Homo sapiens: one gene and its partners. The protein of the gene in region 1 purifies or fractionates together with the protein of each later gene. This does not show direct contact. Each region holds a gene or a part of one and is shown on either strand. Other genes may lie near its edges. The genes, in order: ZBTB49, UTP25 and FBXL17.

Evidence for each region.
Region 2: the proteins of ZBTB49 (region 1) and UTP25 purify together in Homo sapiens (affinity purification with mass spectrometry; one large-scale study listed by BioGRID and IntAct). This does not show direct contact.
Region 3: the proteins of ZBTB49 (region 1) and FBXL17 purify together in Homo sapiens (co-immunoprecipitation; one large-scale study listed by IntAct). This does not show direct contact.

The regions. Positions count from the first base shown.
Region 1 is NC_000004.12:4,307,174-4,310,827, forward strand, and holds part of ZBTB49 (zinc finger and BTB domain-containing protein 49), read left to right. Parts: intron 1-3,654. UniProt on the Homo sapiens protein: Transcription factor. Inhibits cell proliferation by activating either CDKN1A/p21 transcription or RB1 transcription.
Region 2 is NC_000001.11:209,837,888-209,841,541, reverse strand, and holds part of UTP25 (U3 small nucleolar RNA-associated protein 25 homolog), read right to left. Parts: intron 2,634-3,654; coding exon 2,414-2,633; intron 690-2,413; coding exon 487-689; intron 1-486. UniProt on the Homo sapiens protein: Component of the ribosomal small subunit processome for the biogenesis of ribosomes, functions in pre-ribosomal RNA (pre-rRNA) processing. Essential for embryonic development in part through the regulation of p53 pathway.
Region 3 is NC_000005.10:108,358,071-108,361,724, forward strand, and holds part of FBXL17 (F-box/LRR-repeat protein 17), read right to left. Parts: intron 1-3,654. UniProt on the Homo sapiens protein: Substrate-recognition component of the SCF(FBXL17) E3 ubiquitin ligase complex, a key component of a quality control pathway required to ensure functional dimerization of BTB domain-containing proteins (dimerization quality control, DQC).

The DNA of each region.
Region 1 (3,654 bases):
GTACTCGGTCGGGTCATGTCCTCCTGAGCACTTCATTTCTCTGGGCCTGGGGCCATGTCTTCTCTCCCATCCAGGAGAACACCCAGCAGCCAGCAGATGCTCAGGAAGGATTTGATAAGCTGAGCTGAGTGCTCGTCCCTCCAGCCGCCATTCTTGATGAGCCTCCGCTTCTTCCTGCCAGCCTGGCCTGGGGTTCAGAGCTTGGCCTCTGGGGCTGGACAGTCTAGAACTGAGCTCTGCCTCTGTCAGGGCGTCACTACCCTGTGACTTTGGGCAGTCTCACCTTTTGCCCCTTCAGTTTCCTTATCTGTGAAACACGGATAACAAGATTAGTTAACCTCATAGAGTGTGAGGAGTAAATGAGGTAATAACGGAAAGTCCTTAGAGCAGGGCCTGGCACATAGTAAGCGCTCAAGAAACGCCAGCATTCCCTACCTTGTTGCCATCCGCTTTCTCCTCTCCTGTCCATCCTCATGACCCCCAGATGCCGGTCTTTCTGAGGCACCTCCCCGCCCCCACCGTTTTCATCTCAGCAGCTGTGGTTTGATGGGAAAAGCATGAGACTCGGACTAATGACCATGAATAATTAGCAATTGCGACTTCTCTGGGCCTCATTTTTCTAATTCTTAAAATAGGGATAATACTACTTCGTGGAACTAGTGGGAAAATGAAATGAAAAACTAGAGCTGAAAGCCCTTTATACATTTAAATTATGTTGAGAGTAGAAGTTCCATCCTTCTCATGCTTTCTCTGACTCTCCATAGCTGACCATATAAGTTAAAACCCGACATTCAGTCAGGCTGCAGTCCACCTCCACTCCTCTCTCCTGGCACGGATCCTTGGTGCCCACATCAGAGATTCTGATTCTGTGATTTGGAGTGGGGCTTAGGTATTGATGTTTTATTTATTTATTTATTTATTTTTGATGGAGCATCGCTCTGTCGCCCAGGCTGGAGTACAGTGGCGCAATCTGGGCTCACTGCAACCTCTGCCTCCCAGGTTCAAACGATTGTCTTGCCTTAGCCTCCCAAGTAGCTGGGACTACAGGTGCGTTCCACCACGCCCAGCTCAGTTTTTATATTTTTAGTAGAGATGGGGTTTCACCATGTTGGCCAGGATGGTCTCAAACTCCAGACCTCATGATCCACCAGGCTCAGCCTCCCAAAGTGCTGGGATTACAGGCGTGAGCCACCGTGCCCAGCCACGTATCAGTATTTTTAAAAATTCAGCAATTTTGGTGTGCAGCCAAGGTTGAGAACCACCACTATAGCTCTTGACCTGCACTTGCTCTCTTAAATCTTACCAAGGGTAGCCCTGCCCGATCCAGAAACCCTTCCCTTCTGTATTGGTCTGTGTACTTTTGTTAGGTTTCTGTGATTGTAGAGTCATACATAGTGATAGTTTTCAGATGTATATTGCTGCTTTATTTTCATAGTAAAGTATGAATTTTGATGAACAAGGAACTGTTTTAATGTTTGTTGCAAGCCTACAGTGTCCATGTGCTGTCCATGAGCTCTGCTGTGTGCCGGGAAGGGGGACAGAAATGGCCATGGCCTCCAGGAGCTTATTGTTTAGAGGAAGCAACAGACGTGTAAATGATCGAGTACAGTGAAATGTTGGAACTGCTGACAGTTATCTACGGGAACAGTGTGGGCAAAGAAAAGGCAGTAGTCCTTTCTACCTGAAAGGTGTGTTTGGGACAGCATGAGGCCATGAAATGCTTGAGAGATTGCTTAGGTGAGCCCTGCAGACAAGCAGGCACTGGGCAAGCCTGGCATCCCTGGCATGCTGGGGCAAGAAAGCAGTCAGATTGTCTGCATAGGGATGCGTGGTAAAGAATGCCCACCGGCCCATCCTCCACCGTATGCCTAACATTATTTTCTTGTAATGAACTAGAATAAATGTTTGTGGTTACATGGAATTGGAATGCTGTTGTATAAAAACATTTACAAATAAGAATCCCTCATCCTGCTTACTGAGAATTTAGTATTTAGTAGGTTAGTCTTTTTAAAATAGTTAACCGCAGCCTGCATTATGAGGATGGCATGCCAGCATAAGGAAGTTAGCATCATCTTAGAGTGACCACAGAAGCTGCATCTGTCCGTGTGACTGGACACTGTATGTGTCCAGATCTCTGCAGGGAAGAGTCATGTCATACTTTAACGGAAGAGTCATGTCCTACTTTAGAGTATGACTGAGTCGCAGTCAGAGGGAAGTGTTTCCTCTGTGGCGTAGAACATGGACTGTTTGGAGGGCACTGGAGAGAACCAAAAGAGTGACAAGTTTTGAGCGCTTGTCATTTGAGAAACGGGAAAGAAAATGCGGCGTAATTACCTGTCTTTGGGGAGAGGAGTAGGATTGCTTTTGTTCCTCCAAGTAGGCAGAAACAGAAACACTGGGCAGCTGGTACAGAGAGACGGGTTTTGAGAGGCAGTACTCTGCCAGCAGCGCCGTCTAGCCAGCTGTCTGCCCGAGTCCGGGGGTCCTAGTGCCTTCTGCAGGATTACCCTATAGGAGGCATTTCCAGGGTGCTGATGTGGACTCATGCCAGAGGTGACAGTGTCAGCCATCCATGGTGGAAACACAAAAATAAGGACACTTAGTGAGCTTGGCCCAAGCTATTACATTGTCATCTCTGAGGTTATATTTGCCACACCTTTACCGTTGAATGTCCTTTTATCAAAATAGCAGTCATTGTTTAAGTGATATCTCTATGTTAAACCTTACATTTTTTTCTTTTTAATTTTATCGCTGTGTGAAATCCTAAAGTCTTGAAACTCCTGAGCTAGCTGACTTTTAATATCTGGGATCTCTTTTATCTCTAAATGATTACGATTCCTGACTTTTTTTTGATATAAACACTCAACTGCCGTTAAGAGTGCTCATGATAGGGAATAGATGCTGGGTTTGTTCATGTTTAAATACTGAGGTTCAAGTACCTGTCAGAAGGAGTTTATTATAAAAATTGCTGAAGGCAGATGTTAATTCTTCTCTACAGCATAGTTTTTCTGTTAAAAATTCTAACTCCATTTGAAGGTAAAATGGTATTAGAAAGGATCAAAGTTCCTTTACTGCTAATATCGTTAACATAGGTTTAACAGTCCAAACTTTGGAGTCACTAGGCAAACCTGAATTAGTGAATTCAGTCCCCATTTTATGACCCAAGGCTGGTTACTAACCTCTCAGAGCCTCTGTTGACTTCTCTGTAAAACATGGATAATACTGCTTTACAAGACATTGTGATGACTAAGTTAAATACTCTTCGCAACGGTTTAGCAAAGAGCTTCATTCATAGTAAGTTCTTAATAAACGAGAGCTATTATTACCACTTGCTAGAATTTTTTTTTTTTTTTTGAGATGGAGTCTTGCTCTGTTGCCCAGGCTGGAGTGCAGTGGCATGATCTCGGCTCACTGCAAGCTCCACCTCCTGGGTTCACGCCATTCTCCTGCCTCAGCCTCCTGAGTAGCTGGGACTACAGGCGCCCGCCACCATGCCTGGCTAATTTTTTTTTTTTTTTTGTATTTTTAGTAGAGACGGGGTTTCACCATGTTAGCCAGGATGGTCTCGATCTCCTGATCTCATGATCCACCTGCCTCAGCCTCCCAAAGTGCTGGGATTACGGGCATGAGCCACTGCGCCCGGCCTACTTGCTA
Region 2 (3,654 bases), on another chromosome or scaffold:
TACATCGGGTAATAAAGACATCCTATATTTCTCTACAAAACAAGATCCCACCTTAAAAAATCTTGAGCAGGGTATTCCCATCTTCACCAAAGACCAAACAAAACAGCATAAGCAAAAACCACATGTGGGATTATGTTAGGTAAAGATGTTCCTGGTGAGGACCCATCCATCCATCAACCTATCCCATCCACCCATCCACCCACCCTAAAGTTAGTAGAAAGAAATTTTAAGGGAAAGAAATCTTTTCTGGAGATTTGAAAATGACTGACAGGAATTTTAATCTGTAGACAGTTTAATTATGGACAATCTCTGGGTAGAAAAGGGGACAAAAGACTTTTTCAAATTAGAAAATGTGGAGTGTGTGTCCTTGCTTCCAAACAAGAGTTCTAATCTGGACTTAAATAATTCTTTAGGACTTAAACCACTGGGTGTCTTATCCCTCTAAATATGAATACTGTCCCACTGAATGTGAATGGCCAGCATTACCAGGACATGCTCCCAGTTCTGCATCAGGTAAATGTCAGCTTGATCAATGATGAGAAGCTCGATAGAAGACAGAAAGTCAAAATCTCTCTTCTTCTCTCCTTCTCCACCAATGATGGTCCTCAAGCCCAGGGGGGAAGCAATGAGGATATCCGAGGAGTAAAACGGGGCATAGAGTCGGATGCTTCTCTGAAGTATTGCCACTCCTACACAAAACAGCCAAGTACACACCAATTCATTAGTCACTACCAAGCCATTACCTTCCACCCTCTCAAAGCAGTCCACCACTTCTATTGCTTCCACATCTCTTTTGTTCCTCTTAGCATGTAACTGTGCTCAACTGCTTTAATTATTAAAACATAAGAACAAGAGAAATCTCTCCCTTGCATCTATAGTCCCTTCTAGCTTCTACCTTCTCTTCCTTTCCGTCACTATCAAACTGCTCCAGAGAATTCTCTCTACTTTCAAATCTCTCCTTCACTTCTCACTCCACTGCAATCCGGCCTCTGATTCTCAGGACTCCAGAGAAATGACTCTTGCTAAGGTCCCCACAGTCCTCAGTCACCAACAGGATGAACACTTTTGAGAGCTTCTTATGAGGAAAGTACAAACGGCACAGAATGTACTAACAGCTGCCTTGCAATGCTCTTTTCCTTGCTAATAGTTTCCATGACTTCAACTCTCACTTTTGCTTCTATCACTGACCTGGCCCTTGTCTGTCCTTCCAGATCCAAATAACTCTTCTGCAAACTGGTGGATTCACTTGTCAGCTCTGCTCTCGTGCTGCATAAAGCTTTGGGTTAACTGACTCACTGATCATGGCTTTAATGTCACCTTCACACAAATGTGTATTTCCAGCCCATATCTTTTTCCTGAGCTCCAGAACAATATACCAACTGCTTCCTGGACAGCTATATATGTTCCAAACAAAACACGAGCTCTTGTCTCCTTATGCCTTACATTCCACCATACCGAAGCCTGTGTGAATCATAGGTCATTCCAAGCTTAGTCACCCTGATGCCTCTGCAACAGGCAGTTTCCTGTCTGAAATGTTTTCCTCCACTCAGCCACCTCCCTTTGAAACTGGCTGAATCCTACACAGGTTTCCACCTAGTACAGATGACACCTCCACCACGACATCTTCCCTAACCACCCTGCCCCCATTTTGGGTAAGGGGGTTTGCTTTAAATGCTCCGAGAACAACCGTTGCACACATATCCTGCACTGCCTGCTCTGTCGTAGGCTGGATTTCCTTAGCAATGGGAACTATAACTTTTATTTCTATATTTATCTGTAGATTCCCAGCTTCTTAACAGTGCCTGGCACACTGTAGATACTCAATAAGTATTTGTGAATGAGCATATGTGACTAATGAACATTTCCCCAAGAACTTTACTCTATAAAAGGTATAACCAACCAAAGTCAATGGGAGCTGAATGAGAGACAAGCAAAAATGTGAAAATTTGGGTGGAAGTCATGTGTGGAGATTATTCAGGGTAGGCATCTATGTAGCACACAGGAGAAAGTCCACCTTTATGTAGAGACAGTCATTTTATTCAGCCTCCCCAGAATGACCCCATCAGCCCCATCACTTCCAACATCCTAGAGAACCCCTTGTAGCATCTATCTGCTACCAGCTATGGGTGTGCTTTCACACTTCTGTTATAAACTTGCTATAAATTTCTGTTATAAATGTACATGTGCCTTTCATATATGGCCTCAGAGATCCTCCCGACTCCACTGGCCTAATGTCCACCCCATTAGCCAAGGCAAGACTCTCCCATGGCAAACAACATGTCTCAAAGGCACACTGGTTCTGTTAAAGAGGCACAGTGAGTGATCCACTGGGAAAATATCTAATTCCAGCTTCTGGTCTCCAGCTATGTAGACCTTCACACTTTAGGTCTCAAAGTTGATAAGGAAGAATTACCAATCCTGAAGTGGTCATCAATATTGCCCACAAATACGGCTTCATAATCCTCAGGCCTCTTCAAGTTGGGTGGTCTCTCCTCGGGATCTGATCCATATTCTCCCTGAAACCTCTTTTTGTTGCTCACAATGATTTTCTTCTTGCTGTCACCCTCGAGGAGGCTGATGAAGAGCTGCACCACCCGCAAAGCAGCTTCCCGGAATGGCACCACTATCAGTACCTGTGCAGACAGCAACAGCAGCCTTAGTGGGGTAAGAGGAAGGAACAGGATCTTGAGGTGAAACTGCTGAGGAAGTGGAGCTAAAAAGCTCCATGTAGAGCAGTGGCCCCCAGCCAAGAAACATACCTATGTTACCCGCTTTGCGCAGGGCTTGGCTCAACACCAGAAACTGAGCACCTTTCATAACCCCAGCACCATGACCTGCGGACTTCAGACCCATCAGTCCACGTGAGACATTTCTCAAGCAGAATTTGGAAATACCTTTTACAATAAGCCAATGCCTCTAACAGATACGTCTACCAGTAAAAACTCAAGGACATAAACACATGAGCTCTTTGAGGGAAAGATTTCTGTGTCTCCCACAGAATTAGTGCAATATTTTTATCCTAAAGACACAGTGAATAAATACATGTCGAATAAATAAATGGAACAAGTAGAGAAGAAATAAAGCGGGTAAGAAAAAGGATTAACACATCATTACATTTCTAGTGCATTCTCTATACAGTGTTTCAGAAATGACAATAAAGCATTTCTAAAAAAAAATGACCACAATTAATGGGAAAAACAGGACTCAGCTTTCTAAGCATATTCAAAAATATTTAAAGTTACTGTTGAGAATAAAAACCGAAGATGCTTAAAAAATGGTTAATTTCTAATTTCCTATTGTAAACAATGGACATAACCCCAGTTAAATCACGTAATTCACCAAATTATAATATGTTTCATAGATAATCTGCCTCTTATTCTTCTATGTAATTCTAAATGGAAACAACCTTATAACCCTGATGTTCAAGCCCCAAGGAGTGCAGTGGACTCAGCTTGGTACAGTTGCAGAGATGGTGGACCAAGATTTAAGAGGACTGGGTTATTGTTCCAGCGGTGACAGTAAGCGTCGGGGCTTTGGTTTCCCCCGCTATTACACAAGGGAGTTTGACTAAGAAATCTCTAAAGGCCACATTAGTATCAAATTTCTAGAATCCTATTAAACTCAATGAGAAAATTCTAAAAAGATGAGGCTTCT
Region 3 (3,654 bases), on another chromosome or scaffold:
GGTTTTTTGTGGTTTCTCTGGGGTTTTCTATTCATAAAATAATGTCATCTTCGAATACAAATAGTTTTACTTCTTCCTTTCCAATTTGGAAGCATTTTATTTCTTTTTCTTGCCAAATTGCTCCTTAGAACTTTCAGCACAATGTAAAACAGGATTGCCAAAAGCAGGCATTCTTGTCTTATTCTTGATCTTAAGGAAAAAGTTTTCCACCTTTTATCACTGAATATGTCAGCTGTGGGTTTGTCACATATGGTCTTTATTATGATGAGGAAGCATCACTCTATTCCTAGTTTGATAGGTTTTTGTTTTGCTTTGCTTTTTCAAGAAAGGCTGCTTATTTCACCAAATGCTTTTGCACACCAATTAAGATGACTGGTTTTTTTTTCCTTTCATTCTCTTAATGTGGTATATTACATTGATTGATATTTGTATGTTGAGCCACCCTTGTACTCCTTGGATAAATCATAGTAGGTTACGGTGTAGAATCCTTTTAATCTGGTGCTGAATTCAGTTTGCTAGCATTTTGAAGATTTTTACATACTCGTTAAAGATACTTGTCTGTAGCTGTTGTTTGTTTTGTAGTTTCATTTTTGTAGGGTCTTGGGCTGGCTAATGCTAGCCCCACAGAATAAGTTAAGAAGTGTTGCCTCCTCTTCAATTTTTTTGAAAGAGTTTGAGAAGGACTGGTGTTAATTCTTCTTTAAATATTTGAAAACATTCACCATCAAAGCTATGGTCCTTAGTCTTTCTTCATTGGAAATTTTTTTAACTGATTCAATCTCCTTATTTATTATAAATATATTCCAATTTTCTACCTTTTTCTTTTTTTGTTAAGAGATGGGGTCTTGCTATATTGCCCTAGCTGGAGTGCAGTGAATATAGCTTCAGCCTCCTGGGCTCAAGCAATCCTCCTGCCTCAGGCTCATGAGTAGCTGGAACTCAGAATTTCTACTTCTTGGGTCAGTTTTTCTGGTTTCTGTATTTCTAGAAATTTTTCCATTTCTTCTAGCCTATCCAATTTGTTGGTATGCAGTTATTCATGGTTTTCTCATACAATCCTTTTTAATTTCTATAAAGTCAGTAGTAATGTCTACTCTTTCATTTATGATTTAATAATTTGAGTCTTTTTTCTTAGTCAATCTAGTTAAAGGTTTGTCAGAGTTTTTTAAAATCTTTTCGAAGAACCTAGTTTGGTTTTCAATAATTTTTTTCCATAGCTTTTCTGTCCTCTATCATGTTTATCTCTGGTCTGGTTATTATTTCCTTCCCTCCACGAACTTTGGGTTTAGCCTGCTCTTCTTTCTCAAGGTGTACGCTTTGATTACTGCTTTCAGATCTTCTTTTTTAATGTAAGATTGTACAGCTATAAACTGCCCTCTGAGCACTGCTTTTGCTACATCCCTTGAGTTTTGGAACGCTGTGTTTTCATTCTCACTCATCTCAAGATATTTTCTAATTTCCCTTGTAATTTCTTCTATAAGCCATTGGTTGTACAAGACTCTGTTATTTAATTTCTACATATCTGTGTATTTTCCAATTTTCCTTCTATTATTGATTTCCAGATTCATTCCATTATGGTTAGGGAAGACACACTGTATGATTTCAATCTTTTTTAAATGTATAAAACTTGTTTTGTGATCAAACATATGGTCTATCTGTGAGACTGTTCCATGTGCACTTGAGAAGAATGTGTATTCTTTTGTTGTTGAGTGTACTGTACATATCTGCTAGGTGCAGTGGGTTCATGGTACTGTTCATCCTCTGCTTCTTTGTTAATCTTCTTCCTAGTTGTGCTATTCATTATTGAAAGTGAATTACTTAAGTCTCAAATGATTAATGTACAACTGTCTATTCCTCTCTCCAAGTCTTTCAATTTTTGCTATATATATTTTAAGGATTCTGTTGTTAGGTACATATGTGGTTATAATTGCTACATCTTCCTGAAAGATTAATATTTTATATTTATCAATATATAATAATTCTGTCTCTTGGATCCCTTTTGGACTTAAAACCTGGTTTTTTTGGATAATAAAACAGCTATTATAGCTCTCTTCTGGTGTGGAATATCTTTTTCCATCCTTTCAACCTCTATGTAGTTACTTTCATCAGTTTTCTTTATTCTTCATATGGCTTTCAATTACCATCTAGCATCTTATTTCAGCCTGGAGGACTCCCGTTAGCATTTCTTGTAGGGCAGATCTATTAGTAACAAACTCCTTTAGCTTTTGCTTATCTGGAAATATCTTAATGTCCCCTTGAGTGCCCCTATTCTTTAACAGTTTTGACAAATACAGAATTCTTGCTTGACTTTTTTTTCTTTCGACACTTTAAATATTGTTAGCCCACAGCTTTCTGGCTTCCATAGTTTCTGATGATAAAACAGTTGTAAATCTTATTGAGGAGTGCTTGTATGTGATGAGTCACTTATCTTTTGCTGCTTTGAAGATTCTGTCTTTGACTTCTGACAATTATACTATAATGTGTCTCAGTGTATATCTCTTTGACATTATCCTCCCTGAATTTATTGAGTTTCTTGGACGTATAGATGCGTATCTTCCACCAAATTTCGGAAGTTTGGGCCATTATTTCTGCAAATATTCTTCCTGCCCCTTTTATTTCTCCTTTCCTTCTGGAATTAGCAAAATGTGAATGTTTTTCTGCTTGATGGATGTCCCACCCATCTCTTAGGCTCTACTTACTTTTCTTCACTCTTTTTTCTTTCTCTTTCTTAGACTCAATAAATTCAATTGTCCTATCTTCTTTCTTCCACCTGCTCACTTCGGCTCTTGAATCCCTCTGGTAAATGTTTTATTTCAGTTATTGTACTTCTTAGCTCCAGAATTTCTATTTGGTTCTTTCCATAATTTCTAGCTCTTCATTGACATTCTCAATTTGTTCATACATTATTTTCCTAATTTCCTTCATTTCTTTGGCCATGGTTTCCTTTATGTCTTTGAGCATATTTCAGATAATGGATTTAAAATCTTTAGTAAAATCTTTAGTAAATCCAATGTCCAGGCTTCCTCAAGAATGGGTTCTATTTATTCTTTTTTGTTTTAATGGGTAATACTTTTTTCTTTGCATGCCTTGTAATTTATTGTTGAAAACTAAATATTAAAATATTAGATTATAATGTGGTAACTTGGGAAATTAGATTCTCCCCACTTCCCTACGCTTCACTATTTTTGATTAATCAAGGCTTAGCTTGTGTTCAGCCAGTGTTTTGAAAGAGATTTCCTTGGATGCCAAAGCTTAAAAACAAAACTAAAACAAAAAACAAAAGCACTTATTCAAGTCTTTGCAGACTGGCTCTGTGCTGGGATATTTCTTTAAGACTTAGCCATACCATTCACAACTCTGCCTTGGCCTTTACTTCCTGCTTGTACTGGACCTAGCAAGCACACAGTGATAAAGTTTACAGTCTTCTTAGGTCGTTCCTGAACAAGTGTCCTGCCCTGGGCATGCATGCGGCTTTCAAAATTCCCTTCTATACACTGAGGCTGATTGTCCTAATTTCAAAACAAAAACAAAAATAAAAACAAACTCTCTCCCAGGCTCTTTCTCCTAGGTCAATTGTATGTCTCACCATAATCTATTGCCCAAAGAAGCTTGCTCAAAAGCAAGTTTCTTTCATTTGCCTTATACTGTGTTCAA